2 separate regions of the Homo sapiens genome follow, and region 2 is linked to region 1. Evidence: fine-mapped expression QTL. Tissue or cell type: lung. Region 1 holds a variant in brackets; the other region holds the start of a gene. All regions are shown on one strand. Distances are between the middles of the regions.

What was found. PIP is the estimated chance that this variant, and not a neighbour inherited with it, causes the effect.
Region 2: it holds the start of OXCT2, and the variant in region 1 is fine-mapped to the expression of OXCT2 in lung (TOPMed, PIP above 0.99).

What each region holds. Positions count from the first base shown.
Region 1 is chr1:39,535,000-39,537,680 of GRCh38, forward strand. It overlaps the pseudogene PPIEL. Among named protein-coding and RNA genes, the nearest start is that of PABPC4-AS1, 29 kb to the right of the region's middle. The variant C/T (reference allele first, on the strand shown) is at 1,142.
Region 2 is chr1:39,769,931-39,772,611 of GRCh38, forward strand. OXCT2 (3-oxoacid CoA-transferase 2) reads right to left here and starts at 1,418. Exons shown (of 1, transcript NM_022120.2): 1 at 1-1,418. The coding sequence starts at 1,325. The region is part of intron 3 of BMP8B (bone morphogenetic protein 8b); the gene reads right to left. RefSeq lists enhancers at 791-1,464, 1,465-2,137 and a silencer at 1,351-1,450.

The DNA of each region.
Region 1 (2,681 bases):
TGGTCAGGTGTGGTGACTCATGCCTATAATCCCAGCACTTTGAGAAGTGAAGGCAGGCGGATCACTTGAGGCAAGCCTGGGCAACACAGGGAGACCCTGTCTCTACAAAAAATAAAATTAGCTGGGCCTGGTGGCATGCACCTGTAGTCCCAGCTACTTGAAAGGCTGAGACAGGTGGATCACTTGGGCCCAGAGGGTCAAGGCTGCAGTGAGCTGTGATCACATCACTGCACTCCAGGCTGGGTGACAGAGTGAGAACCTGTCTCAAAAAACAAAAAACAAAAGAATTCTTACTCAACAATAGAAAGACAAATAATCCAATTAAAAATTGGTAAAGGGTCTGAAGAGACATTTTTCCAAAGAAGATATAGAGAAGGCCAATAAACACATGAAAAGATGCTCAACATCATTAACTAGCACGGAAATGCCAATCAAAACCACAATGAGATACCACTTCACATCACTAGGATAGGTCTAATAAAAAAAGAAGGATAATCACAAGTGTTGGTGAGGGTATAGAGGCATCAGAAACATCATACACTGCCGTTAAGAATGCAAAATGGGGCAGTGGCTCATGCCTGTAATCCCAGCACGTTGGGAGGCCAAGGCGGGCGGATCACAAGGTCAGGAGATCAAGACCATCCTGGCTAACACGGTGAAACCATGTCTCTACTAAAAATACAAAAAAATTAGCCAGGCGTGGTGGTAGGCGCCTGTAGTCCCAGCTACTCGGGAGGCTGAGGCAGGAGAATGGCGTGAACCCGGGAGGCGGAGCTTGCAGTGGGCTGAGATTGCGCCACTGCACTCCAGCCTGGGCAACAGAGTGAGACTCCATCTCAAAAAAAAAAAAAGAATGCAAAATGGTACAGCCACTTCAAACAGTCTGGTCGTTTCTCAAAACATTAAAAATAGTTATCAGCCAGACACGGTGGCTCATGCCTGTAATCTCAGCACTTTGTGCAGATCACTTGAGGCCAGGAATTCGAGACCAGCTGGCCATCATGGCAAAGCTCCGTCTCTACTAAAAATACAAAAATTAGCCGAGTATGGAGGTGCATGCCTGTAATCCTAGCTAGGGGAGGCTGAGGCAGGAGAATCTCTTGAACCAGGGAGGTGGAGGTTGCAGTGAGCCGAGATTGTG[C/T]CACTGCACTCTAGAGTGAAATTCTGTCTCAAAAAAAAATAAATAAATAGTTATATAACCCAGCATTTCCAATTCTATGGCTACATCTAAGAGAAATGAAAACATATGTCTACACAAAAATTTGTATGTGAATGTTCACAGTGGCATTATTTGTAATAGCCAAAAAGTAGAAACAATCTATCAACTTATGAATGGATAAACAAATGTGGGGTGCAGACAGTGGGTATTAATTGGCAATAAAAAGGAATGATGGGGCCGGAGGCGGTGGCTCACGCCTGTAATCCCAACATTTTGGGAGGCCAAGGTGGGCAGATCACGAGGTCAGGAGATCGAGACCATCCTGGCTAACACGGTGAAACCCCATCTCTACTAAAAATACAAAAAATTAGCCAGGCGTGGTGGCGGGTGCCTGTGGTCCCAGCTGGGAGGCTGAGGCAGGAGAATGGTGTGAACCCAGGAGGCGGAGCTTGCAGTGAGCCGAGACTGCACCACTGCAATCCAGCCTGGGTGACAAAGTGAGACTCCATCTCAAAAAAAAAAAAAAAAAAAAAAACCAAAAACCAAAACAAAAAGAAAAAAAAGGAATGATGTACTGATACATGCTACAACATGGATGAACCTTGAAAACATTATGCTAAGTGAAAGAAGACACTCACAAAAGCCTACATATTGTATGATTCCACTTATATTAAATGCCTAGAATGGGAAAATCCATAAAGACAGAAAGTAAATTCGGGTTTCCCAGGGCAGGGGACCAACAGGATAAGTAGCAACTGCTAAAGGGTATGAAGTTTCCTTTTGGGGGATAAAATGTTCTAAAATTATTTGTGGTGATGGTTGCACAACTCTGTGAATACATTAAAAACCATTAAAATGTGTACTTTAAGTGGGCAAACTGGATGGTATGTAAATAATATCCTACTAAAGCCGTTAAAAAAAAAAGATAATTACACTACAAAATGGCAAAGCCCAGTGACAGAGACATTTGTGCATAGAATGGGAGCACTAGAGTCACCTAAGTGTTTGTGAAAAAGAGAAACAGATACTCACACAAACACTCATCATGAAGGCTTTCTGAAGGAGGTGATGTCTGAGTTCAGTCTAAAAGGCCTGGGGCCAGGCACCGTGGCTCACGCCTGTAATCCCAGCACTTTGGCAGGCCAAGGCAGGAGGATCACTTGAGTCCAGGAATACAAGACCAGCCTGGGCAACAGAGAAAAATCCCATCTCTACAAAAAATTTAAAACTAGCCAGGTGTGGTGGCATGTATCTATAAGTCCCAGCTACTTGGGAGGCTGAGGCAGGAGGATTGCTTGAGCCCAGGAGGTTGAGGCTGCAAGTGAGCCAAGATCATGTCACAGCACTCCAGCTTGGGAGACAGAGCAAGACTCTGCCTCAACAACAACAAAACAAACAAATAAAAAGCCTGGGTTTGCCAGGGGACTAGGGGGCGTAGGATAAGGAGCTACATCTCGTTGTGGCAATAAGAAACCCCCCTCTTCATGGCTGGGCCTCTAGACTGGGTACGCCCTTCATATGA
Region 2 (2,681 bases), 230 kb after region 1:
GTGCAGTGCTGCATGGTGACCACCACTCTGGTCTTCTGACTGGACACCAAGTCCATGGCACCGCCCATGCCTTTCACCTTCTTGCCAGGGATCATCCAGTTCGCCAGGTCGCCGTATTTGGAAACCTGCATGGCTCCAAGCATGGTTAGTTGGATGTGTCCCCCTCGGATCATGGCGAAGGAGTCGTCGCTGGCGAAGAAGCAGCCCCCGGGAAGCACCGTGACCGTCTGCTTGCCTGCATTGATGAGGTCGGCATCCACCTCATCTTCCGTGGGAAACGGGCCCAGGCCCAGGATCCCGTTCTCACTGTGAAGATGGACAGTCATGCTGGGACTGATGAAGTTGCTGGCCAGCAGGGGGATGCCTATGCCCAGATTGGCGTACATGCCGTCCTCAAATTCCAGAGCTGCGCGTCTGATGATGCGCGTCCTGGCGTCCTCTTCCTTTCCAGCGTCTCCATCTTCCTCTTTCAGGATCGTTAAGCGCTCAATTCGTTTCTCGTATTTCTGCCCCTTTATCACGCGATCTACATAAATGTTAGGAACGTGGATGTCTTCTGGGGGGAAAGCCCCCACCTCCACGATCTCTTCCACCTCCACCGCCGTGACGTCTGCAGCTTTGCACATGGGCACGTTGAAATTGCGGGCGCTTCTCCTGAAGACCACGTTTCCTGCCCGGTCGGCCTTCCACCCTTTCACCAGGGCGAAGTCTGCCCGGATGGCGCGCTCCAAAAGGAAGTGGTCGCCGTTGAACTCCCTCACCTCTCGGGGCTGGCTCATGAGCGCCAGGTGGCCGTCCGGGGTGTAGCGGATGGGGGCGCCCCCTTCCTGGACCAGGGTCCCGTAGCCCGTGGGGGTGTAGAAGGCGGGCACCCCGGCGCCCCCCGCGCGGATGCGCTCGGCCAGGGTGCCCTGGGGCGTGAGCTCCAGCTCCAGCTCTCCTGCCAGGTACTGGCTCTCGCACAGGGTGTTCTCGCCCACGTAGGAACAGACGATGCGACGGACCTGCCTGGCGGCCAGCAGGAGGCCCAGGCCGAAGTCCTCCACGCCCACGTTGCTGCTGACCACCTGCAGGTCTTTCACGCGGGTCCTGAGCAGCGCGGCGATCAGGTTCTCGGGGATCCCGCAGAGCCCGAAGCCCCCGATCATGACGGTCGCCCCGTCAGAGATGTCCTTCACCATCTCCACCGGGTCCGCGTAGAACTTGGCACGGAGCCGGGGACTGGTGGCAAAGCAGCGGGCGCAGCCCTGGGACAGCGCGAGCCCTGAGCCGCCGGCGGGGACCCCGCGCCCGAGCACTGACGCCAGGAGCCGCAGCGCCGCCATAGTCGGCCCGGGTCGGAGGCCAGGACAGGTGGTGTGAGCCCTGCGTGCGCCTCGGGCCGCGCGTCACAGAGCAGGGCGGGCGCCCGCGCCCTGACGCACTCCCTCCCAGCAGGTCTCCCCGGCCAGGCGCAGGCTCTAGGCTAGGCCCGCGACCCGCAACAGGGAGGGGGCCGGCTCCGCCCTGGGCTGGGGGCCCCCGAGTCAGTCCTCCGTGTCCAGCGCACAGGCCCGGGCGCAGGACAGAGCTGAGGTCAGGCTCCGCGAGAAGGGCACAGGCTAGGTCCCCTCCTGCCCCAGTGGAGCCTCAGACACAAACTCCAACCACCCCGCCCAAGCTTCCCCCCAGCTTCCCCAGCTCATTAAAGACACCAAGTGTCCAATGAGCAGGCGCCGCTGGGTGACACCGACGCTCATGAACACCTTCACTGGGCATCACTCTGTGCCAAGCACCCTCCTTTAATCCTGTGACAACCCGGAGAGTGAGTGCCTGCCCCACTACAGCCTCCCAGAGCTCAGGTTCACCCCTCACTGCGACAGTGGGGACAGTATCCCTCACCTCCATCAGGAAGGGTCCCTGCTCTGAAGAGGCCCCCCGTCTTGTCCTCTGCATCCCCCCGCCCTCTCCACCTCCCCCACTCCAGCTCCCTGCTCCAACTTGTGCGGAATTTTGCAGTTTTCTTCCCTCTGCACAGAATCACTGCATCACCACAGCAGCGTGCAGGCGTCTCCTCACCTGGAAAGGACCTGCCTTGTCCCGGGTTCTCTCCAGCCCCAGCCCATGTCTCTGCTCCCCTTCCCCAGCAAAGGTTCTGGAAAGAGCTGTCTCCTGCCTCCACTGCCTGTCTCCCTCCACCTCCTCAGTCAGACCCACACTCCACGGATATTTAGGTCATCAACAACCTCTGTGATGGCAAAACCCTTGGTCACTTCTCTGTTCTTGCCTTCAGTGCCCACAGCAGGACACAAATGACAAACCCTTGCTTCTGGAAACACTTTACTCTGGCGTCTAGATCACCTCATCCTCCAGGTGTCCTGCTCCCTCCCTGGCTGGTCTCTGTGGGCTCTCTGTGGCCCCTCCTTGTGAGGTCTCTGGATGTTGGAGGTCCCAGGGCTCTGGGCCAGGCCCTCTTTCTTCTCCATCACTACCCTCCTTCCCTAGATGACCTGGTCCCATCCCATGCTTTAAATCCACTTACATGCCAGCACCTCCCTCGCCTGGGTCTTCACACTCACCGGTCCCTGTAATGGCATTTCCATGAGGACCAGTGATCTCAGTAACATCCCAGGGGGGTCAGTAATATTCCAGCCAAAAGAGAACCCTTGGCCACCCACCTCAAACCTGCCCTTCATCTATCT